Linked DNA regions of Homo sapiens: regions 1, 3, 4 and 5 are each linked to region 2. Evidence: fine-mapped expression QTL. A gene starts in region 2. Each other region holds a variant in brackets. All regions are shown on one strand. Distances are between the middles of the regions. Region 1 has its middle 15 kb from the start of GMNN. Region 2 holds the start of TDP2 (tyrosyl-DNA phosphodiesterase 2). Region 3 holds the start of LOC124901278 (a long non-coding RNA gene). Region 4 overlaps C6orf62 (chromosome 6 open reading frame 62). Region 5 overlaps KIAA0319.

Region 1 (5,105 bases), 93 kb after region 2:
AAGCGATTCTCCTGCCTCAGCCTCCTGAGTAACTTGGATTACAAGCGCCTGCCACCATGCCCAGCTAATTTTTGTATTTTTAGTAGAGACGGAGTTTCTCCATGTTGGCCAGGCTGGTCTTGAACTCCCGACCTCAAGTGATCCGCCTGCCTTGGCCTCCCAAAGTGCTGGGATTACAGGTGTGAGCCATCACACCTGGCCTATTCTTATATACTCGTTTATTGAGTTTCAATTTTTTTCTTTGCTAAAACTGCAGATTACTAAATATTGCTTTATAAAAAAGATGAAGGAAAATAAATGGTTATTTTCCTTGCTCATTGTTATCTCTTAGCATTTATGCTAACTGCATCAAAACAGCAGAGAATACTGCTCATCCTGTTTATTTTTTAAAATTCAAATGTAATTCAAATGTAGTTTTAAAAGCCCTTTCCCTCACAGTAGGTTGAAGAAGAAACAAGAGAAAGTCTTTCTTTTCCAATCTCCATCTTTGCTCCTGTCCTAGAAGAGGCGCCGCTAATCTGATTAGGTTCTAAAACAGTGAATGGCACACTTCTGCTACAGTGAGAGGTCACTAAAGTGCACTTTTCCCTTTTACTTCTCCTGGGACAGCAGGTGCCTTCTAGGCAGAGACATTTGCTCTTTTTTCTCTCCTCTATTTCTCTAAACCTTCAGGAATCCTCAATTCTGCTGGGCAGAAAGACTCTACTTATGTCCTGAGCCTAAATTTTGTGCTGCAGCATAGCTTAACCAGGATCCCTAAAGAGGCAGTTACAGGAACCTACTTGAAAATAAAGGGGAACCTGCTATGGTGTCTTACATGCTGTTATATCTTGCAAACCTCCTTCTAGAACCTCAAAGGAAGTGGAGATGGCTGGGCCGAGGCAGGATTTGGGCATTCTTGAGTCCCCAGCCGAGGGCGTCTGTCGACGAAAAGAGTCAAACTCCGTAAAATATTTGAAGAGATTTATTCTGAGCCAAATATGAGTGACCATGTCCTGTGACACAGTCCTTCCTCAGGAGGCCCTGAGAACATGTGCCCAAGGTGGTCGGGGCACAGCTTGGTTTTATACATTTCAGGGAGGTGTGAGACATCAATCAAATACATTAAAGCTATACATTGGTTCTGTCCAGAAAGATGGTACATCTCAAAAGCAGTGGTGGAAACCAAAAGTTTTATCAGGCAGATGAAGCCTCCAGGTAGCAGGCTTCAGAGAGAATAGATTCTAACTGTTTCTTATCAGACTTAAGGTCTGTGTTGATATTAATGGCAGAGAGGTGTAATGAGGCATGTCTAACCCTCACTTTCTGTCATGGCCTGAACCAGTCCTTCAGGTTGAATTTTAGAGTGCCCTGGCTTAGGAGGCCATTCAGATGGTTGGGGGGCCTTGGAATTTATTTTTGGTTTACACCTCCTTCATGAGCATGTGAACTGAGCTATCGCTCAGAAGTCCCCATACAATGCTCTGCTGTTGCCATCTTGAAGTTATCAATATTTTTTGCTTAACAAGGGGACCCAAATTTTTATTTTGCACTGGGTTCCAAAAATTATGCGGCCAGTGCTAACCTAATCCTAATAATTAACTGCACTCAATCCTACCATTACTTCTAAAAAACACTTCCTTTTAAGGAGGAAGATTTAAGTTTCAGTTTGTTCTTGGTTTTAGCTTTTCAAACACTGTTCATGTAGGTTTTGGGAAATATACTCTTTCTTTCATCTTTTGTATAAACCTTTTACATTTCTGAACTCCTAAGAAAACTTTGTACTCACATTGAGATTTTTCAAAATTTAAACTAGAGCTTGCTTTTCTAATTTTCTTAAACACTTTTGGAGTCTTAAGTCATGGGGTAGATTTTGCTTCTTTTCATTGAATTTTTAAAATCTGTTTGCCAAAGGTGTACTTCATACCTAACTCATAAATTCCCAAAAGAAAATGCATTGAGCAAATATATAACACAAATAAGAAATCATGTAATTTCCCCTAATTTTCCCTTCATCTGAAGGTACCTGTCTTAGTTATTTTCATAAGTCTATGTAGCTACACCTTGCTTGCCACTAGAACTCCCTCTTCATTCAGGTAGGAGGAAAATGATTCACAAACCAATTTCTAAATTATTTATCCAGTCTTTCTCAAGAAAATAGCCTTTCTTGGAATGGTAGAAAGTAACTTTACTTGGCCAGATGCAGTGGCTCACACCTACAATCCCAGTACCTTGGGAGGCTGAGGTGGCAGATCACTTGAGGTCACAAATTTGAGACCAGCCTGGCCAACATGGCAAAACCCTGTCTCTACTAAAAATACAAAAATTAGCCCGGTGTCATGGGCGTGCCTATAATCCCAGCTGCTTAGGAGGCTGAGGTAGGAGAATTGTTTGAACCCTGGAGGTGGAGGTTGCAGTGAGCCGAGATCCAGCCATAGTACAAGTGAGTGAGACTCCATCTCAAAAAAAAAGGAAAAAGAAAAAAAAAAGAAAAGAGACTTTACTATCTCTAATGGATGTATTATCTAGAGTAAAGTTTAGCAAAATACAGTCTTCAGGCCAAATCCAGCCAAGGCCTGTTTTTGTACTGCCTGGGAGCTAGGAATGCTTTTTATGTAATTTTAAGGCTTGTAACAAATGAATGAACAAAGAGTATGCGATTCAGAAAGTCTAAAATATTTACAATCTGAATTTTTACAAAAAGAAGTTTGCTACCTCCTGATTTAGAGAGCAGTAACAATTTGCCTTCCCTCCCCACTGAAGTCATAGTAGAAAAAAATTACCCTAAGCTATAGTTAAAGAAACTTGTGGTTGTTAAATTAAATTTATAGGAGCCCATTGATTTAGACTGGGCTCCTTCACCAGGCCTCAGTAGATCAAACCAAAATGGAGTCACTTATGCTAAAATTCCAGGCCACCTTGGCCAGGCGCTGTAGCTCAGGCCTGTAATCCCAGCACTTTGGGAGGCAAAGGTGGGAGGATCACTTGAGCCCAGGAGTTTGAGACCAGTGGGGGCTATATAGGGAGACTCCGTCTCTACAAAAAATGAAAAAATTACCCAGC[T/C]GTGATGGTGCACACCTGCTGTCCCAGCTACTCGGGAGGCTGAGATGGGAGGATCCCTTGAGTTCTGGAAGCCAAGGCTGCAGTGAGTGGAGATCACGCCACTGCCCTCCAGCCTGAGTGACAGAGCGAGACTGTCTCAAAAATAAAAAGTAAAAATAATTCCACACCACCAAGACAAAATCAAGTTGTTTGCTTGACCTTCCAAGAAATCAGGAAATCCAAATCCCCAGATAGGCCAGTTTTAGCTGGCATGACAAGGAAGTCCCCTCTGCTTTAACCTTTACAAGGAAAGTAACTGTGAAACAACCAGTCTCTGTTCTTTGTTTCTGCTATCTTTGGCTATTTATTTATTTATTTATTTATTTATTTATTTATTTGACAGTCTCACTCTGTTGCCCAGGCTGGAGTGCAGTGGCACAATCTCGGCTCACTGCAACCTCGGCTTCCCGGGTTCAAGGATTCTCCCACCTCAGCCTCCCGAGTAGTAGCTAGGATTGTAGGTGTGCACCACCACGTCTGGCTAATTTTTGTATTTTTAGTACAGATGGGGTTTCACCATGTTGGCCAGGCTGGTCTCCATCTCCTGACCTAAAGTGATCTGCCCACCTCAGCCTCCCAGATTGCTAGGATTACAGGTGTGAACCATCGCTCCCCACCTCTTCAGCCTTTTTCTGTAAGTAATACCCAGGTTGCAGAACTGTATTCTCTGAACTTCTGGTTCTAAGGGCTGCCCAATGTGTAGACTGTTCTTTGCTCCAGTAAACTGTTACATTTGTTTTGTCTAAAGTTTTTCTTTTGTTGTGGTCTTCAACACTCACTGGGCCCTTAATCCCATAGTTCCTGGTTCTTTCTCCCTCTCTCCCCAGCAGCCATTTCTACCAAGTTGAAGAGCACTGCATTGCACTCTCCGTTCGTGGCAAGCCTACAGTCCTAACTACTAAGCTTTCTAGGTGAAACGCTTGTGGTTTGCACTGCTTGCTATAAGCCAACCTGGCTGCCCCAGTCAGGAGTCAAGGCAGCCCAGCTCAAAGTGAGTTCCTCCCACTCAGAGAGGTCCACAGGGAACTGTACCCAATGGGGATGCTTGTTGCAGTGAATATTGGCTGACCCCTCCCGTCAGACTTTCTTTTAGTGAGTACAAATGTTCATGAGATCTCCTAAAGGGAGCTCTCCAAAACCCCGCTAGGAGATCAGAGCTGGCACCAGGAGCAGAAAGGCCGGGCAGCGAGAGCAGACACCCCCGAGCCTGCAGGGATGGGGCGGGGCCAAGGGGGGTATCCCATGCCCCCAAGGGGAGCGTGGTTCGGGGGAGGGAACATCCCAGGCTCCCGAGGGTGCAGGCTGCAGAGATGCCCAGGTCCTGAGCCTGGGAGGGCAGCCACAGCTGCACCGGCAAAGCTCCTGCCCCACCAACTCGGAAGGGTCGGAGTTCCTGCTTTTCCCCGGCTCCTGCTTGCTCCGTGAAGTGGAAGGCCTAGGTCTGCAGCCACAGGTTGGGTGGTTGCAGCTGCACCCAAGTGGGCAGATCCTGCCTCTTCCTGGCCTCCTCCAAGAGAACAGGGAGGCTTCCATCCACAGCCACAGTTGGGCAGCTGTAGCCCCGCCCAGGAGGGTGGGGCTCCCACCAGTTGCATGGTGTCTGCAGCCCCGCCTCGCCTCCCTGCTGCAGCCAGTGACAGCAGCCACTGCCATCACTACTGCCTGAAAACGGTCTTTTGCTGGTCAATTCTGCACAATTGCAGTGGTTACTGTCTTCATATATGTGTGTCATTGTTTGGATGTTTGATCCCTTCAAATCTCATGTTGAAATTTGGTCCCCAGTGTTGGAGGTGGGGCCTACTGGGAGATGCTTGGATCATTAGAACAGATCTCTCATGAATAGATTAATTGGGTGGGTGGTGGGTGAGTGAGTTCTCACTCTATAGTTCCATCAAGAGCTGGCTGTGAAAAAGAGCCCAGCACCTTCTCCTCTCCCCTACCTTTCTCTTTCTCACTTCCTCTCTCACCATGTGATCTCCACACAGCAGATCTCAGCTTCACCTCCACCTTCCCCATGAATGGAA
Region 2 (5,105 bases):
TTTTAAATTCCCCAGATAATTCCAATATGCAGCTAAGATTCAGCATAGCTGTTTTAAGAGGATTTCCCTTGTCTCTCATCAGAGACACTGAAGATAGATTCTAATGTAGGGGACTAAATCACTTTAGTGTTCAATTTCAATTTTTGTTGATATCCCAGGAATTCACTCCAGAATTGAGATTCCTGCGCCATTCATTTAAGACAGCCAATGCCCTTGCTCAGCAGGGTTGAGTTTTTCTGGTCATAAAATCTTCCAATCAATTTTTTTTTCCCTTTCATTTTTGCTAAAGCCAACATCAAAAATCTAATCAGGTCACAGGCCTTAGAAACACGCTGAAGTTTGCCCCTTCCCCATTTTTCTCTCTTGAGCAAACTAAACTTTAAAACCTCACTCTCATTCATACTTGACCTGAGTTCTGAGAGACAAGAGACCACAGCCTAATCAACACCTTTGCTTGTTTTTGCCAATTTACCATTCCGGGGTAAGAGAATCCTAATAGCCATGACACCATTGATCAGCTTGATCCGCATCTTTTCTGAGGGCCTATTACAGGAAATCCACTTATTTTGTTACTATTTATTGGTTACAATATAGTCTGTTGCAACCAACAGACATTAACTCAGGTTGGTTTGACCAAAACAGGAGAATTTATAAGGAAACAAACATGTCACAGAGCCTGGTACAGAAATACAGCCATGTTTAAGGAAGGGCAGTTAAGGGCTTTCTCTCAATCCTACACTTCAACTTCCCTCTGCTTCATTGTCTCTCTGCAGACCTCTGTTCTCAGCTTCTCTGTACACAAAAAAAGATATGTATGAATCCTCACAGGTGCTAAGTTAACATGTTACAGTTCCAGCTCCATAGGAAGACTCAGACTTGACTCTCTTGGTCCTAATTCTGAAACCAAGGAGAGGATCTGACTGGCCAGTTTGAGCTAGGCAAACACCTCCTAGTCCAACTTGCTCTGGTTAGTAAAACGGGAGCCAGAGACAAATCACTGTGGGTGAGTAAACAATTCCCCAACAAGAGGCAAGACAGAGAAAGGAACCTAAAGAAAATATCTTATCACATCTGTAAGCCAGTGTAGCTGAAAAGACCAAAGGGAAAATAAAGTCTCCACTATGAACAGTCAATTTTACAGGTTGTACATATAGCTGGGAGAATTTTATACATTCAGTAAATATTTATTGGGAGCTTATTATGTGTCAAATGTTGTGTCAGACTTTGGGAAATTAACAATGTACAAAACAGATACTCCTTACTAGATGTGCAGTCTAGTAGGAGACATAAAATAATGAACAGCAATTATAATACGGACTAAGGTATTGTAACAGGGGTCATGCAGGATGCTATAAGAGTACCTAAAAGGGGACTCTTACCCAGACTTAGGACATCAGGAAAAGCTTCCTAGAGATAAATCATGTCTCAGCTTGGGGCTTTAAGACAAATATTAGCAAGGAAGGGAAAAGAAAAAAATTCCAGGCACAGGTAATAAAGATCTTTACGAAGTTTCAAAGACAGGAGAAAATGACCCGTTGGAAAAAAGTAAAAGTTTGATAGGCCTGGAACCTGGAAAGGCAGGTTCTAAGTTATGGAGCCAAATAGTAGAGGGCCTTGTAAGGCAGCTACACTTTTTAAGTGCAGGAACTGGAGAGGGGCACTGAAATAACAGGAGTAGGTGTGCATTAAAAAAAAATAACAACAACAACAAACCTGTTATTCTGGCCGGTCAGCCTAGGGCCTAGAATAAATAAACAATACAGGAAGCAAGGAGACTTCCAAGTTGCCATTTTTCGATAGAAGGTTTAGCCTTCGTTCATTTGTTTCAAACCTCTCGCTTACTTATTTCCTTTCATTTGAGTTAAACATTACATTTCCATCTTTTCCTCCCTGGACCCCAAATCACGTTCGAAGCGACAGTCTGGTGCAGTGTTAGATCCGCTGCTGGGGCGCAACTCCGCGCAGCAGCAGCAACGCAAGCCCTGCTCCTCTGGCTACGCAGCTTGGAGATCTGCCTCAGCATCGTCCGCCCAGCTCCACGGCAGGTCCCAGGACGCGCAGGGCTACCTGGTATCAAACTGCCTCCGTGCGGACTGGCTCCCGCTCCCCTCATCACTTACTAGGTCTTGGGCTCAGAGATGGTTTCAGGTCGGCGTTCCAAGGCGCTCTCCTCCACCGGAGGCTCGAAGTAGGAGTTCAGAGCCCTCTGAAAAACAAAGGCACAAGGGATGAGGTTTGTGCGCTCCACCGACCTAGGTAATGGAGCCGGAAGCGAGGACAGCGAAAGCGTACTTCCATCTCCCAGTCGTTCTCGGCCAGGAAGCACTGAGCCACTGCGGCATCGCAGCTTGCGACCGAGGCAAACTCCACACACAGAAGTCGCCGCTTTTTCACCTCAGGCTCGCCCTCTTCCTCCGCCGCCTCCCTCCCGCCCTCCAGGCAACTCCCCAACTCCATCTTCCTGCCGCCTCTGCACCGCCCCTTTAAGCGGAACAGGAGGCCAACGCGCGGCTCTGCGCAGGCGCCTGTGTCATGGCGCTCCCGCATCAACCGCCCGGCGGGGAAATGCGCTGCTCTCGGAAAACTGGTGCAGCTGCGCCGCAAGGGAGCCGCCGGGGCGGTGGGTGCGAAGCGCGCATGCGCGCTTCGTCACAAGGGTGCGAGGAAAGTCAGTGAGCAAATCGCGGACCACCGGGGCTGCCAGCTCGCCTGACTCCCGGCCTCTTGCGCTCCTAGGGGCGGAGAAGGGTGCGGGCTCTTCGCCCTTTGTGTCCTCCTTCTTTCACTAACTTCTGGACTTTCCAGCTCTTCCGAAGTTCGTTCTTGCGCAAAGCCCAAAGGCTGGAAAACCGTCCACGATGACCAGCATGACTCAGTCTCTGCGGGAGGTGATAAAGGCCATGACCAAGGCTCGCAATTTTGAGAGAGTTTTGGGAAAGGTATGGGAAAGGTAGGGGAGAAGCCGTGGCTTCTAATGAAGGAAAAGAAAGCACCGTGCTTGGTGCCGTTGTGAGCTTTGAATAATTATCTCTTGTTAGGTTGTGTTCTAGTACGCCTGTAAATTCACCTTAGTAATAATGATTATTACTTTAATGGAGCCCCTAAATATGCTGGGTCGAACGCGTAAGTTCTCTATCTAAACATAGATAAGTATGGTTATGACTCGTGGAGACAGTTCCAAGGCTGGGAGGGACTTTGGAGTTTGATCCTTCAACCAACAAACGTCTGCATTGCTCCAGAGAAGAGTAAGAGAAACCTCTGCATTTAAGGCACATTACAGTCTAATTCTCTAGGCTCTAGAAGATTAGAAGATAAATAATTGCAATAAGGTACAAAAGCCAAGTGCTTGGTAGAGTGGTGAACGAAGGGAGAAGTTGTTCCTCTGTAGTGGTTTGGGAAATTTCTCAAAGGCACCCAACTCCTGAAGAAGTAAGTTAGCCCTTGGAGGAAGACTGAGTGCTTTTCTGAGACCAGCACTCACAAAGCCCGAAGGTGTTTGTTTGTTTTTGTTTTTTTAGGATGAGGTTTCGCCCTTGTTGCCTAGGCTGGAGTGCAATGGCGCGATCTCGGCTCACTGCAACCTCCACCTCCCTGGTTCAAACAATTCTCCTGCCTCACTCAGCCTCCCGAGTGGCTGGGATTACAGGCATGCGCCACCATGCCCAGCTAATATTGTACTTTTAGTAGAGACAGGGTTTCTCCATGTTGGTCAGGCTGCTCTCGAACTCCCGACCTCAGGTGAAACGCCTGCCTCCGCCTCCCAAAGTGCTGGGATTACTGGTGTGAGCCGCCACGCCAGACCTTGAAGGTGTTTGTTGTTGTTGTTGTTTTGAGATGGAGTCTTGCTCTGTTGCCCATGCGGGAGTGCAGTGACACGATCTCGGCTCACTGCAACCTCCGCCTCCTGGGTTCAAGTGATTCTCATGCCTCAGCCTTCCAAGTAGCTGGGATGATTACAGGCATGCGCCACCAAGCCTGGCTAATTCTTTATTTTTATTAGAGACAGGGTTTCATCATGTTGGTCAGGCTGGTCTCAAACTGCTGACCTCAGGTGATCCACCTGCCTTGGCCTCCCGAAGTGCTGGGATTACAGGCATGAGCCACCATGCCCCGCCAAAAGCAGGGATTTACTGAAAATGAAAGGACACTCCTGTGTTTGGGGTGTGGAGCAGCAGCTCAGGGGCCCTAATACCCCATTGAAGTCTCCTATTGGCCACTTGGTACTCATCTCATGTAAATGAAGTGGTGACCCACAATTGGCTGTGAAAAGCAACCAATGAAAGGCTAAAGTGAAGTTACAAAGTTGCCCTTATATGCAAACGAAGACGTGGCGTGCAATCAGATGGTGAAGTTACATAGTTACACTCCTATGGGAAGATCTGATTGGTTGCAGAAAGAATAATTTTTTTTAAGGGATAACTTACTTCTTAGCGTAATTTTGCTTTTTGCAACCAATCAGAGGTACTTTCAATTTCCCATCTGCCACACAGAAAAGGTGGGGGTTTGGAAAGGGAGAAGCCTCTGGTTCTTTTGTTACTTGGTGTGGGAAGTTAGGGTTTTACTTTCAATTTAGTTCTAGGAAGTCAGCGTGAAACAGCCCTAGGTTCCCTGCCTCCAGATCCGATTCTCCTGCCTCGCTTGTAAGAAAATCATGCTCCATAAGAAGCATTTATAACTAAACCTTGTGAACCCCAAAAATTTGAGACAGGTATCAGTTAATTTAGAAAGTTTATTTTGCCAAGGTTGAGGATGCGCACGCAGTGACACAGCCTCAGGAGGTCCTGACAACATGTGCCCAAGGTGGTCAGAGCACAGCTTGGTTTTATGCGTTTTAGGGACATATAAGACATCAATCAATATATGTAAAATGAACACTGGTTGGGTTCGGAAAGGCGGGACAACTTGAAGCGGGAAGGGGGCTTCCAGGTCACGGGTAGGTGGGAGACAAATGGTTGCATTCTTTTGAGTTTCTGATTTACCTTTCCTAAGGAGGCAGTCAGATACACATTTATCTCAATGAGCAGAGGGATGACTTTGAATAGAATGGGAGGCAAGTTTGTCTTAAGTAGTTCCTAGCTTGAATTTTCCTTTTAACTTAGTGATTT
Region 3 (5,105 bases), 28 kb after region 2:
GAGCCAGCAAAGGAGACTGGGGAGTGGCTGGGAGAGTAGGAGGAAAACCAGGAGGAGGTGGTGTCATGGGAGTTAAGGGAAGGCTAGGAAAAGTTCACGACGTCACCAAATGCTGAGAGGTCACTTAAGGGAAAGAGAGGCTGCCAAGGGTCCTTTGAGTTTTGTAGTTAGGTCATAGTTGACCTCGGCAATAGAAATAATTTTAAGAAAATTCATGCCAAACTATACAAACCAAAGTTTCTGTTTGATAATAGTTTTTATAATAAGGATGCAAATTAAAGTGGTGTTGTTTTGGGGACAGGGTCTCACTCTGTCAGCCAAGCTGTAGTGCAGTGGCACGATCACAGCTTACTGTAACCTTGACCTCTTGGGCTCAAGCGATCCTCCCCACCCCAGCTTCCCTCGGAGCTGGGACTGCAGGCACATGCCACCATGCCTGGCTAATTTTAAAAAATTTTTCTAGAGTTGGGGTCTTGCTGTGTTGCCCAGGCTGGTCTCAAACTCCTGGGCTCAAGCAATCCTCCCACCTCAGTCTCCCAAAATTAAAATGTTTTGATCACCTGTGATATACCAGGCCTTGTCCTAATTTGAATTTTAATCTTAATTTTTACAAAACCCTATAAGGGCAGTACAGTACATTATCTCTATCAATGGGGAAACCTCAGTTCAGGGTCTTGCCTAAGTCTGCTTCCAGAGCCAGTACTCTCAACCATTAAGCGGAAGCCACCTGTGTAATGAAGCTACTGAAACATACATTATAAAGCAGAAATGCTGGACTGATAACAGCAATATGGTTGAACCATGGTACTTTTATAGCATCTACCTTTCTAGAGCCCCTTGAACATAAATGTCATCTGTGTTTGTTGCTGTTGCTACCCCATCACACTGCCACATCCTGTCTTTTTACCTCCTTTCCTGCTTATATGAAGGTGCATTCATACACTGTCCTTAGACACACCTCCTGTCATCTGCAGTGTCACACACAAAGTTAGCAACATCCATGGTCAGGGAAAATTGCTTGAAAACAGCCTTATTCACAAATATACACATACAAAATTGTCATCCATTAAGATTGTCTGTTTTTCTTTGTGCTTCTGTAGACAGTCTTCTTTTGGGGGTGGCTCACGTGTTTATGTACACAGATTTTCTCATACCATATGTCACACTCCTGTGCTTGAGGCCCATTACAGACACCCTTACTGAGCCAGAGACATACATTCCTTTATCTGTTTAGCAGAGGCAGTGGAGGCAGTGGTGGTGAGCTGCATAGCAGCCAGCAGCAGTTACAGTGATGGCAGTGGCTTGTTTATCCCACTGCTCAGCAGAATGCAACCCTTTTAAAAAAAGACCAGAATGATCTGAGATGCCAAGGCTTAAAGAGAATTCTTGGTTCTCAGCTTCATAAAGGACCATCTCAGTGATGAATAACAGCATCTTCACTGCTGTTATTAGGCAGCCCTTCTCCCTATCTATCTTTGCTGAAAAAGTGAGGAAAGGAGAGACTCTGTGTCATGTGGAGTGTCTCTTTGTGATGAATTGTATCTCAGATGGGAGAGGGAGGGTGAGGGGCTATGGCAACCTGAGTCTTTTTTTTTTTTTTTGAGACGGAGTCTCACTCTGTCGCCTAGGCTGGAGTGCAGTGGTGCGAACTCGGCTAACCTCCACTTCCACCTCCCAGGCTCAAGGGATTCTCCTGCCTCAGCCTCCCAAGTAGTTGGGATTATACGTGTGCCCCATCATGCTTGGCTGATTTTTGTATTTTTAGTAGATACAGGGTTTCACCATGTTGGCCAGGCTGGTCTTGAACTACTGACCTCAAGTGATCTGCCTGCCTCGGCCTCCCAAAGTGCTGGGATTACACAGACGAAGTTGCATAAACTCATATGAATGCATGAAGTGCAAGGAAGAGACAGCACGATATAAGGCCATATATAAAAGGGACAGATTATTGTATATGTGTGTGTACATGTAAGAATTGTTATGATATACTGAGGAGCCCATTGTGGCAAATAGTGCTGAGCCATAAAAGTTCTTGCCAACCTACTGCAATTGTCCAACCTGCAGGATCCTGGGACTGAACACATCTGGACAGTTCTCTGTATTGTTAGGCCATGGCAGGTAAATTTTTGACCCCTTGACATCATAAAAGCCTCCATACCATCTTCACCAAGACACCTAAGGAATCAGAACCCAGTTGTCTGTAGCAGTCCAGGTGATATTTGAGGGTAGGCTGTTTTGCATAATGGTTAAACCTGAGACATCCTAGTTAAACTTT[T/C]CGACAGTTTCTCATCTGTAAAATGGAGACAATAGTATTCACTTCAAACATTGGCAGCACTGAGACAGCACATGTCAAATTGCTCAGCATGGTCTCTAACATGGAGTTAGCTATGTTGATATAACTGAATAAACAAGTGTGTGCCCTACAGCCCATCTTTACCAAGGCTGAGATGTTTTTTTCACAAGGTTCTCTCCCTACTCCCCTTCCTCATCAGAAAGAAGTTAGCTTTGCATTGGCCTCTTCCCCAGCAAGACTACTTATTAGCTCTGGGAGGGTGGGCAGGACATTCCTTCATCATCTTCCGTTGGTTTAATTCTCTTATTTGACCTGAGGAGACAAGAATTGAGAACATATAAAGGCATTTATATTGCCATATCAGGCTGCCCAGTAAAAAATTCTCTCTATTCCAATGTAAATTTTAAAACAATTTTATTAGTATGTCCTTTGGCCTTTCAAGTTGGGGGGAAAAATCAAAACCAGTATTCTGTACTAGAAAAATCTAACTGACATTTGTCTTACATTTTGTCATCCCAGCCAAAGTTAGGTAATCAAATGGAACTTTAAGAACTAAGCTTTACTGAACAAACTGTGCCTTAAAATACACTTAAACTGAGGCGCGGTGGCTCATGCCTGTAATCCCAGCATTTTGGGAGGCCGAGGTGGGTGGATCACCTGAGGTCAAGAGTTCAAGACCAACCTGGCTAACATGGCAAAACCCCATCTCTACTAAAAATACAAAAATTAGCCAGGCATGGTGGCACGCACCTGTAGTCCCATCTACTCAGGAGGCTGAGGCAGGAGAATCACTTGAACCTGGGATGCAGAGGTCGCAGTGAGCCGAGATTACACCACTGCACTCCAGCCTGGGTGACAGAGCGAGACTCTGTCTCAAAAAACAAAAACAAAAACAACACATTAAAACTACCTTTGCTGTCTACAAGCCGCTCGTATTTAGTTCTATTTCTTCAACTGCCTGGCTTTTTCCCTTATCTTCACCTGGATAACTCCTGCCTGTTCTTCAAGACTCAGATGTCGTTCTCCAGGAAGCCTTTCCTAATGTCTTTTCCCTGGAAATATACATTTTTAAAAGTTAGATATCTTTACTCCAAGAAACCTGTATTTATTCTGTCTACAACAGTTTCTTCCTCTGCAGTTTTTGTACTTGTCTCTTCCTTTAGACACTGAACCCGCTAAGAGCAGGGATTAAACTTCATTCATTTTTTACATTGCCAATGCCTGCTATAAAGAATCACATAAATGTGTGAATGAGGTTAAGTTTACACCTTATTCCTGCTCGGTGTGTATTATTTAGTTTATGAGGACATCTTGTGGCTAGATCATTTATTGCTATAAACAGACGATCATAGGCCAGGCGCGGTGGCTCACGACTCTAATCCCAGCACTTTGGGAGGCCAAGGTGGGTGGATCACCTGAGGTCAGGAGTTCGAGACCAGCATGGTGAAACCTCATCTCTCCTAAAAATACAAAAATTAGCTGGGTGTGGTGGCATGTGCCTGTAATCCCAGCTACTTGGGAGGCTGAGGCGGGAGGATTGCTTGAACCTGGAGGGCAGAGGTTGCAGTGAGCCGAGATCAAGCCACTGCACTCCAGCCTCAGCAACAGAAAAGGACTTCATCTCAAAACAAAAAACAAACAAAAAAACAAAAAACAAAAAACCCAACAACAAAAATCCTGTTCTAAAATTTATTTTTGACATTGATTTACCTGTTTTGCAAAACATGACATAATATTGTTTAGGATGTTTTATATCGCGTGGTTCTGTTTTCCTTCAGGGCCTTCAACAATAAAACCACTAAATAGGTGGTTTGTGAAACTCTCAAATGTCTTCCTGGTGGGAGTCATACCTAGAGGTTACTCATATATAGTTAGTGATTGGGAGATGTGAAGGTGGAAAGACCTACATCTACATCTCAGTTTCCATCACATCTTGGGTGATCTTGAAAATAAATCACTCTGAATTTAAGTTCTCTGCAAAATGGATGTTGTCTCTTCCTTACTATATAGTATATGTAAAGTGCTTGGCACAGTGCCTAGCATATCAAAGTGCCTAATAAATGGTACTTATCTAGAATATAACCAACCATTTAATGCTTGAGACATCCCCCTACTCCCAAACACAACAGACACACCAAATACTCATCCATATTCTTCCTGAACACCTCTAGTGAGGGTGGAAATTACTGTTTTGGATGCAGCACATTCCACTCACAGCTCAGCTCTAACTTATACCATGATATTATACCCTGATGGTTTTTCCTAGTAATTTAAACACAAATATATAAGAAAACTTACCTTTCCATAAGTTGCCTTTTTAAAGATGTTTGATATAAAAATCATAAATTCTTTTTTTTTTTGAGACTGAGTCTCCCTCTGTCATCCAGGCTGGAGTGTAATGGCATGATCTCAGCTCACTGCAACCTCCACCTCCCGGGTTCAAGCGATTCTCCTGCCTCAGCCTCCTGAGTAGCTGAGATTACAAGGGCACGCCACCACACCCGGCTAATTTTTGTATTTTTAGTAGAGACTGGGTTTCACCATGTTGGTAAGGCTGGTCTCAAACTCCTGATCTCGTGATCCACCTGCCTCAGCCTCCCAAAATGCTGGGATTACAGGCGTGAGCCACCGTGCCCAGCCAAAAATCATAAAATTTTAAATGCATTGTTGCATATGTTTATCTTTCATGTAATACTTTTTCCTTATACTTACTATAAATGGGCCAAAACCTTAAAAGCAGTAACTTACTTTGCTGGATTTTATTGTTACATTTACACTTTATACTAACATGGGTTTATAGTATAAAAGTTTT
Region 4 (5,105 bases), 49 kb after region 2:
TTTTCTCCCTTCAGTCAGATATCATCCATTAAATGACCGAAATACAGATGCTCCACGACTTGTGATGTTACATCCTGATAAACCCAGTGTAAGTTACACGTATTTTAAATCAAAAAGTGACTTTTGAACTTACAACAATTCCAATTTACAATGACTTCACCTGGATGTAGTCCCATCATAAATCGAGGAGCACAATGAATTCATATGGCTTTCACATCATGGTAAAGTTGAAAAAATCTTAAGTCGAACCATTATAAGTCAGGGGAATCTGTATACAGTACTTTCTTATGTATGTAACCAATGGATTATTTTTAAAACTTAGTTGAATTAATCTTAAAACATTAAAAATGATAATTATTAGAGCTTATGTGTAGCAACATTACCATGGGGCGGGAGAGTATATCAATTTATACAGTCTGTGAAAAACATAAGCACCACAAAGATACTTCAGGGTAATAAGTAGAAGCAAAAGTTTTAAATGACAAATAATCCTCACAATTAGCTTAAAATAAAGAAGCCTTCTAATATTTGATTTAGTGTACTTAAAATGAGTCCTTAATATCATTTTTCTGATTATAAAAGTATACTTAAGAAAATCGTGGCAATCTATGCCATAAATTATAAAGGAAACACAAATGTAAATATATATATTAAAAAAGGAAAGTTAGCTATACCTGACCTACAACTAAGCATAATTAACACTTTGGTGGACCTCCATCTTCTATGCATACAAATATACTGTAAATAAAACTAGGTTCAACATGAGTAAATGCCCTTAACACTAGAGGGGGGATTCACTTGAGCAATGTCTAGTATACCATGACAAACAGTCAAAAGTCAGCAAGATTTTAAGGTTAAGAATGACTACTAAATTTACTTCTTTCTTCTATAATTTTATATACAGATCAACTTCTACAAAATGATTTCTTCACCCATTTCAGATCACATTCCTTTGGGAAGCAGCAGTTAAATATACGGTTTTAGAAGGATGTGTGGTGAAGGCTTCAAGAGTTACAGATCTCAGAAGCTCATCTGTGGGCCCCTCTATAAATCAGTAAATGTCCACTTTAAAAGATTTTCTCTAGTCATAATTTCAAAGCCACACTGGGCAGGTGGAACCACCACACTGTCAAGAGATTCTATAATCCAAACGCTTTCTTCTCTTGCATCACAATATTCTAAATAGGGGAGACTCGTGAAATAAAACTATCAGAAACCATTTTCCCAAAGAATTTCTCAAGTTAGACCCTATTATATTCTAGTAGTTTTCACATATTGAAATACTCATCACACTTTAGACCAAAATACCTGAACAGGCCTAAAAGGCTCATCAGATTCTTTCCACCTAGAAAACAGGAGACAGACGATTTTTTCAATATCATTCCGAGGCCAAAGAATGAAATCCATCTCCTGAGTACAGCCAATTACATCCTATAAAATGATTAAAAAAAAAAAAGTTTACTTTTAAAGAAACAGCTACATCAAGCCATGTCACAAATTATAGGGTTCCCCTATAAAAACATTTTATAAGTACAAAAGATCTACCATATATCATTTTATATCTTAGGAAGTAAACATAATAGTTTATAATCTGAATAGCTCATGATGTAATTTTTTATTTTTGGAGACAGAGTCCCTCTCTGTGGCCCACACTGGAGTGCAATGGTGCAATCTCCGCTTACTGCAAATTCCGCCTACCAGGTTCAAGCGATTCTCGTGACTTAGCCTCCCGAATGGCTGGGATTACAAGTGTGTGCCACCATGCCCCGCTAATATTTTTTGTATTTTTAATAGAGACGGGGTTTCACCACGTCAGCCAGGCTGGTCTCGAACTCCTGACCTCAGGTGATCCACCCACCTCAGCCTCCCGAAGTGCTGGGATTACAGGCTAAGTCACTGTGCCTGGCTCTAATTTTAATTTTTATCTTACAGAGAGTCACATACACTCAGTCCAATGCTCCTAACACCAAGACCTAGACTTATCAGTGCATGGTGAAAACTCCAACAAAATCTCTGATATCTGTTGTATTGTCAGACCCTGAACCTTTATTTCCACCTTTAAAAATCAATCTATTTAAAAAGATGTCTTAGAACTCCTAATATGAATCACTATCCTATTATAGCTGAAATGCTATTTTTATTTTGATAGAAAACTACTTTTCTCCATTCCTGACTTCTGCTTCATTATTGTAGCCAGCATATTAATTTTTGAAGGTCCATAATTTCTTCCAGACCAGTATCTGGTTATCTCCAGCATTCTCCCCAAGTAACTGTGGGGATCTCTTGGTTCAGGTATGCCCAGATTAACTTTTAACATGTTGCAGAAGTTTACAAAGCTGGAAGCACTTCCTTATATTCATATTCCCCCCAAAAAAGGAAATACAATAAACGGAGACATAAGACATTTATCCACAATAATAATACACAATATTATGAGCCTAATACAACAAAGTTGTCCATGTTTTACTCAAGGTCAAGTTTTCAAAAACAAACCTACTTCAAAAATTTTTAAACTTTCTGCATAACACTTAAATTATTAAAAACAGTTGGCTACTGGCAGGGTGCAGTGGCTCACACCTGTAATCTCAGCACTTTGGGAGGCCAAGGCAGGAGGATCACTTGAGGTCAGGAGTTCCAGACCAGCCTAGCCAACATGGCAAAACCCCATCTCTACTAAAAACACAAAAAATTAGCCAGGCATGGTGGCGCACAACTGTAGTCCCAGCTACTCGGGAGGCTAAGGCAGGAGAATCATTTGAATGCGCGAGGGCAGAGGTTGCAGTGAGCCAAGATCATGCCACTGCACTCTAGCCTCAGCGAAAGAGCAAGACTTTGTCT[C/CA]AAAAAAAAAAAAAAAAAAAAAAGTCCGAGATCATCAACACCTAACACAGATTAAAGAAATCCCTTTATATACTTCATCCACATAAGAATGGTCTGGCGTAAAAAAACGTGTTTTTCTAATCCTATAAACACAATGCTTTAAAGTCATGATCCCAGTTATCAACATGGCACAAAGACAAATTTACCTGAAGAGACTGGTCACTATCATAACTATCCACTTTAAGGGGGGTTCGGGGGGCGGGGAAATGCAAGGTTAATCCACAGAAACTTTATCAAGTCAAGACTTAAGGCAGAACTTACCCTTCTCATAGACTGATATCGAGGAGCATGGAGCTGTACCACATCCTTCTGTAAAAGCTCTAGGGAACTTTCCAAGGAATAGCTGGAATCTCGCACACCTTTCAGGATATTTTCTTCATAATTATTTGTCATGACTGGTATAACCTCAGACACTTCAAAAAGTGCTGACTTTTTCTTCTAGAAGAAAAGAAAATGGTGTATTAACCCACAGGGAGCACAGCCTTTTAACACTCAGTTCATATTACAATGTCATGTAACATTAACTCCACAAAATTCTTAACTGTCTGCAGTAACTTATACACTGAAAACACATTTTCAGATAGGTAATTCCTTCTGTTCTTCCCCTACCTCCCCCTCCAACCATACATGTACAAACTGTCATTAGAATGTTTAATGCTTGAGTTTTATAGCATAATGGTATCCATAGCACTATTTTGGACAATACTTCTTAAAATTAAAAATCTCACCAGTTTTAAAACAACGCTATTCAGACAAATGAATAGTTTTATTCCTTATATGGGCCAATTTCCATTACTTTCTCAATATTACATTATCAAAACCATCAATATTTCTGGTTTTTCTTTTTTTTTTTTGAGATGGAGTCTCACTGTGTTGCCCAGGCTAGAGGGCAGTGGCACCATCTTGGCTCACTTGCAACCTCTGCCTCCTGGGTTCGAGGGGATCTCCTGCCTCAGCCTCTCGAGTAGCTGGGATTACAGGCCTGCGCCACCACACCTGGCTAATTTTTGTATTTTCAGTAGAGACAGGGTTTCACCATTTGGCCAGGCTGGCCTTGAACTCCTGACCTCAAGTGATCCGCCTGCCTCAGCCTCCCAAAGTGCTGGGATTACAGCCGTGAGCCACTGCACCCAGCCAAAACCATCAATATTTGAAAGACTAAAAAGAAGCACACCAAGTTCTCTTTTAATACTACTCAAGACCAAGTACGCATCACTAAACTACTTTTTAAAATTCTGTACTATTAAGTATATATCATGAATTATTCAGGGCAACTGCATGGACACTGTCCATTCACAGAATAAAACCAGATTATCGTTGGTGTTAAAGAATTAAGATGGTGCAATTTGGGGCAATATATAGATTAAATACAAAGATATGGTCTCACTACTTATTATCTTGGATTTATTTAAAGAGCATACACTGTATCATCTTCAACTAAAATCCAATCTCATCAATTTTGAGTCAGCTTGTCAACAAAACAAAAGTGGAGATGTAAGTCCTTGATACCACCCAATCTTGGGACAGTCACTTCAAAAATTACTTAAAAATCACTTCACAATGCTATACTTCAGCAGCTAAGAATGTTCTTAAATACAAATAACCTTTTAGGAGTTAAGAGTTGGGGCTGTGCGTGGCAGCTCCTGCCTGTAATCCCAGCACTTTAAAATGCCATGACAGGAGGATCACTTTAGCCCAGGAGTTCAAGACTAGCCTGGGCAATACAGTGAGGCCTGTCTCAGCAACAAAAATAATAAGAGTTAAACAGTAGGGGGAAACCTGGAAAACTTCCAGATACTTAATAGATACCACACTAAGATTGTATTTCTGATCTGAAATTAGCTAACAATTTAAGCACCAAAATCCAAGTAGCACTTCCTTACATTCATAACCTCATCTTTGGTCAAATAAGCCTTGCTGATAATTTAAGAAAATGTTCATTTTAAGTTGCAAAAAATACTGCTCTTATCATCCCATCCTTGACTACTCACAACTTACTGTTTGCTATTTAACTGCGGAACTAATTCTGATTAAGACCTCCACCGCCCCTAAAAATGAAACTTCCTCTAGGTCATTTTGAGTTTTTAAAAACTGTACTTCTATACAAGGCAAAATGAACTCTAAGTAAAAAAGAAAATCACACTTCTAAACACAAATTAACCATTTCAGTATTTAATTGCTCCTAAAAGGTGTATTCTACTTCATTAAATGTAAGAGAAAAGGTTACC
Region 5 (5,105 bases), 82 kb before region 2:
AAAATTAGCCGGGTGTGGTGACGTGCACCTGTAATCCCAGCTACTCAGGAGGCTGAGGCAGGAGAATCACTTGAACCCGGGAGGCAGAGGTTGCAGTGAGCTGTAATTGCGCTACTGCACTCCAGCCTGGGCAACAGAGCAAGACTCTGTCCCCAAAAAGAAGAAAGACGTTTGGGTTCAGTAGCTAAGAAGGTATTAACTGAGCTCTATGCCGTTACGCTGTGCTGTTAGACACAACCAGTCTCCAGTTACTTACTTGAGAGAGGTTAAGAGTTTGCTTGTGTCCTTGTTTTATTTCACCTTGGTAGTCTGTGGGGTGGCTTATTAAATTCCATTCATAGTTGTAGGTTGTTTCTGAGAGCAAAAAATAAATATGAGTAGTTATAAATTCTGAGAGGACACTAGATAACCTGGGCAGAGGGAAGATGACAGCCTTTAAACCACCAGTGCAGATTACCTTAGATATACTCAACTCAGCTTTCTTTTTTTTTTTTAACTTATATATATATTTTTTGTTTATTTGTTTTTATCCCCTCACTCTTGTTATCATCTTATGAACTTGACTTTCAACTATCAGCCAAGATAACATGTATCTTCTTAATGTAACATTTCTTTTTTTGTTATAAAAACATACGTCTTACAGGAAATTTTTAAAATGTATAAAGTTAAAAAAAAAAAAACCTCCCTAACTTAACCATTAGTATGTGATGAGTTTTTTCCTAGGGGGCTACATCTGACTATCCATATCAGTTTTAACATAGTATAATACATTGTGCTTTTCTCTTTTTAACAAAAGGCAAGGAGATTTCAATTCATTTGATCTGTTGTAGGGGTTTATTTAAGGACACAAAAACAGTATAAACATGTCTATGTTAAGATGAAACTGTCTCCCAGCTGCAGATATTAGTAGTTAAAATATAAGGTACCTCACCTCAAAGGATTAAAATGCAAATGCCAAATATTATCATCTCTGTGTATAAAATTTTGACCAATATGTGGTGGAGAAAAAAATGAATTAAGGAACTAACCTGAATGAGAAATAGTCAAACACCTTAAGAATGAGTTTACCTTAAAAACAATGCATTTGACAGGCCACAGGTCCCAGGTCAAATGCTTACTGAATGGTAGAGCACTGGACAAGTAGAAGAAAGAGCATTTTGAATAAATTTTTTTGAGCAGCTAGTGTGAGGCATCCTGAGAACCTGAGAGCCGTGATTGTCAATGCCACAGTATCTGCAAACAAACCTATGGGTGCACGCCACTTCCCTCTCATCCCGGTGGAATCTTCCCAGGTTCTATGGGTTATTACAGTTCAAGAACTGGTACGTGGCAGCCTCTCCTGATCTGCTTTGCATCATCAGAAATTTATGACTTTCCATCCTGACCAATTAAACGATATATACTGTATTTAATTTCCTAGATTCTTACTCCATTTGAAACTATTTCAACAAATGTTGATGCTTAAGAATAATCAAAGCCTTGTCCTCCACCTTTGTTTGTGACGTCGTGCAATACTGTGAAAAAGAATCGGCGTTGTAAATAGCCTGTAAGGACCTGCTGAAGAAAAACACCCCAGTTCCTAGTGGTCAGGGAGGAAGGTTAAACTCTCACCTACAGGTGGCGCTGGCGCAACAAAGGCCTTCAGTTCAACTTCATTGTCGGGTAAAGTTATAATTAGGTTATCTCCAGCCGATACCGTAAGTTCTTTCACTAAAAGTTAATTAGAAATAATACGTGCAATTATATAATATAATGTGTTACATTACTGCTCTACACTAGATCTGTTTTTGGTATCCATAAATTAAAATAACATATGCTTTTGTAATAGTTCTTCATAAGATTTTAGCTAAGGCACGTTTTTCCTCTGGCTAGAAATTGAACTGTACACTATATTATAGTACAGGGTTTTAAACCACAAATATGAGTTGGCACTGTGACAAAAATAATGATTCAAATTGACTGAGCAACGTATTGAGTGACAAGAGTTGCGTGAAACAGGTTTCATGCAACTGTGAATTGGGTCCATTTTCTCCCTTGCTATCAGCTTTTCTTGACGCCCTGGTGTGAGCTATTTTTAGTTATAAAAAGATTGAGTGTAATCCTAAGTGTTTCTGTCTCATTAGTCACACTCCACTCAGTTCTGAT[A/G]GTAGCCTCATGAATTACTGCTAATGGCCTTGTACTTGGAACCTTTCCAAGACAAAATCCAGTCACCCTCAATATAAAAAACCTATTTTAACTTAAGCAGCAGGAACATTAACTCTTATCAAAAGTGCTTAGCCACCAAGTAAGCATTCAGAACAATACTTGTTTACTTTCTCTGTAACCAGATTACATTGATATATTCATAAATTCTATCGGTTTGGCTCCATTGGACATTAGTTTCACTTGTAAAATATATTGCGATATGTCCAGATACTACACAGAGAAAAGCAAAGATTTAAAAAAAAAAAAAAAAAAAAAAAAGCTGAGTGCTCCAGAGGGATCAGCTGCAAGGAGATGTCAGACAGGTTGTTCATTTAATCCACTCCCCTCCTCTCAGTCCTCAGTCCCTCGAGTGCCTCCTAGATCAGCTGCAGAGGCTCTCAGTGGCTTTGCTGGCTCCTCTCTTGTCATTTTCACTAACTCTTTATCCTGAAAGTCAGCAACTGTAGACCTAGAAGGGACATTGATCCAAACCTATCATGTTATAGGTGGGGAAATTAAATCCTAGAAAAGCAAAGTTGTCCAAGGCTGTATGGTAATTAGCAATAGGTCCACCAATATTTAATTTAAATGTATTCATTTCAACAAACACTTATATACCGGATTAAACTGTGCCAGGCATTGCCCCAAGGGCTTTAAAATGATCAATTCATTTAATCCTCATTACAACTGTATGCAGTAGGTTCTATTAAAACCCAAAGATCCTGGGCCAAACTCCCAGGCCAGTTTCTTTTTCCGTATACTACACAGCTTCTCTCCCACTATTATCTTTCTCTCTATGGAAGCTCAGGCTCAAAGTAAATACAAAAGTTAGAGAGAGTAATCTCCAAAATACATGGCCCACAGAAAAGCTCAGGAAACATGACCCTTACGTCTAGCATATTCTAATAACTTCCTTATTGGAAAATCTAATGGAAGCTTTGCAATCCTCACCACAGCCTCTGCGACACATGGAGCTTTGATACGTCTTCCCTTTTGGAACTACAGGAGACCAGAACATGCCACCCCAAAATATGATTTGTGAAAGGGAAATAAATCTCGGGACCCCCAAATCACTAAGCCAAAGGGAAAAGTCAAGCTGGGAACTGTGTCAGGCAAACCCGCATCTCATTTTATTCCTAAACGAGATACCTACAAAGATTAAAAAAAAAAAAAGCTACATGCCTTCCTTATAATTTGCCCACAAGAAACTCCTTGTGGGCCTCAAGATCTTTGCCCTAAAACAGTTTTGTTGAATTTCACCCTGGCAATGTAAATCAATAGCTTATCTTCACAGGTGCAGGGGGTGGGGGAAAGAGCTCAGCCATCCCTCTGCTCACCTGAGACAAATGCATATCTAATTGTTTCCTCTGCCCTATTGTTTATGAAAAAATACAGATTCACTGAGCCAGACAAGGCATAAGTGACTATTCCTCTACCCCCTCTGGCAAGTAAATTGTGTATTCAGTGAAAGACTGATCAAAGACTCAAAAGAATGCAATATTTGTCTCTTATATACCTATGACCTGAAAGACCCCCTTCCAGTTGTCATGCCTTTCTGGACCAAACCAATGTACATCTCACACATACTGATTGATGTCTTATGTCTCCCTAAAATGTATAAAACCAAGGTGGCCAGGCACAGTGGCTCACACCTGTAATCCCAGTACTTTGGGAGGCTGAGGCAGGTGGATCACTTGAAGTCAGAAGTTCAAGACCAGGCTGGCCAACACGGAGAAACCCTGTCTCTACTAAAAATACAAAAATTAGCCGGGAATGGTCATGGGTGCCTGTAATCCCAGTTACTCAGGAAGCTGAGGCAGGAGAATCTCTTGAACCTCGGAGGCAGAGGTTGCAGTGAGCCAAGGTCACGCCACTGCACTCCAGCCTGGCCACGAAGCAAGACTCCGTCTCAAAACAAACAAAAAAAAACAAGCTGTACCCTGACCACCTTGGATACATGTCATCAGGACCTCCTGAGGCTGTGTCACTGGTGAGTCCTTAACCTTGGCAAAATAAACTTTCTAAATTGATTGAGACCTGTCTCAGATACTTTTGGTTCACAGACTGTAGGAAACTAGAATATGCCATTGCAACTATAACTCTTTTATACAAGGATTATTTTGAGCTGTGTTTTTTGTTTGTTTGTTTGTTTGTTTTGAAGAAACAGCAGACCAAGAGGAGCTCTGAAAACAGAGTAGAAGTTACTCCTTTGTAAGGGGAATTTATATCTATAAAGGAAATCTCCATTTGTAAGGGTCTCTCTCCTTCTATACCAGGAAGAGAAGGGTGACTACATTCCAAGAGATCCACATCCATAGAGAAGGTCCTGACAAATCTGCATAATGAACCTCACTCTTGCTTACTTCGTTTATTCTGGGCACCTTTGGCCACTTGCCTTCCCCACAATCCTCTTTCCTTGTTTTAGTTCAAGATGCTATATAAGCCAGAGTTCCAGGCTTATATAATATAAGCTTATATAATAAACCTCTCTGAGATTTCCTCATTTCCCTGGGCATCTCCCACGTATAGGTAAGATGTACATGTTATAAACTTGTTTTTTTTTTCTCTCTTGTTAATCTATCTTTTGTTACAGGGGCACTAGCCTAGAACTTAGAAGGGTAGATGGAAACTTATTCTATCCTCCTCCATAGAACTCTCTCCCTCTAGCTTTCCTCTTTATCTCCTACCTCTCTGGCACAACTACCCAATCAGTTTTGCAGGCTCCTTCTGCACTTCCAGCTCCTTATAGAACAATGTCCCCAAAGTTCCAGTCCTCAGGCCTCTCCTCAGCTAACCCCCCTCTCTCCCTGGATGATCTCCTATGTCCCCCGTGTCTGCAACTATCACCTCCACACCGATGACTCGTAATCCTTTATCTTCAGCCCAACTGCTCATCTAATTTTAGTTCTGTATTTTCATAT

Evidence for each region. PIP is the estimated chance that this variant, and not a neighbour inherited with it, causes the effect.
Region 1: its variant is fine-mapped to the expression of TDP2 in whole blood (TOPMed, PIP 0.98).
Region 3: its variant is fine-mapped to the expression of TDP2 in whole blood (TOPMed, PIP above 0.99).
Region 4: its variant is fine-mapped to the expression of TDP2 in skin (TwinsUK, PIP 0.95).
Region 5: its variant is fine-mapped to the expression of TDP2 in atrial appendage (GTEx, PIP above 0.99).

The regions. Positions count from the first base shown.
Region 1 is chr6:24,757,011-24,762,115 of GRCh38, forward strand. No RefSeq gene overlaps it. Among named protein-coding and RNA genes, the nearest start is that of GMNN, 15 kb to the right of the region's middle. RefSeq lists a silencer at 824-1,025. The variant T/C (reference allele first, on the strand shown) is at 3,043.
Region 2 is chr6:24,664,406-24,669,510 of GRCh38, forward strand. It overlaps TDP2 (tyrosyl-DNA phosphodiesterase 2), which reads right to left and starts at 2,494. Exons shown (of 7, transcript NM_016614.3): 1 at 2,293-2,494; 2 at 2,121-2,206. The coding sequence starts at 2,457. ACOT13 (acyl-CoA thioesterase 13) reads left to right here and starts at 2,672. Exons shown (of 3, transcript NM_018473.4): 1 at 2,672-2,939. The coding sequence starts at 2,859. It overlaps LOC124901279 (a long non-coding RNA gene), which reads right to left. Exons shown (of 2, transcript XR_007059509.1): 2 at 4,712-5,105. RefSeq lists enhancers at 1,540-2,212, 2,213-2,884, 2,416-2,710.
Region 3 is chr6:24,692,141-24,697,245 of GRCh38, forward strand. All of the region lies in intron 1 of ACOT13 (acyl-CoA thioesterase 13), which reads left to right. LOC124901278 (a long non-coding RNA gene) reads right to left here and starts at 3,631. Exons shown (of 2, transcript XR_007059508.1): 1 at 3,204-3,631; 2 at 1-2,605. The variant T/C (reference allele first, on the strand shown) is at 2,276.
Region 4 is chr6:24,713,010-24,718,114 of GRCh38, forward strand. It overlaps C6orf62 (chromosome 6 open reading frame 62), which reads right to left. Exons shown (of 5, transcript NM_030939.5): 2 at 3,139-3,315; 3 at 1,309-1,431. Among named protein-coding and RNA genes, the nearest start is that of C6orf62, 3.6 kb to the right of the region's middle. The variant C/CA (reference allele first, on the strand shown) is at 2,839.
Region 5 is chr6:24,581,993-24,587,097 of GRCh38, forward strand. It overlaps KIAA0319, which reads right to left. Exons shown (of 21, transcript NM_014809.4): 5 at 1,612-1,710; 6 at 257-354. Among named protein-coding and RNA genes, the nearest start is that of KIAA0319, 62 kb to the right of the region's middle. The variant A/G (reference allele first, on the strand shown) is at 2,146.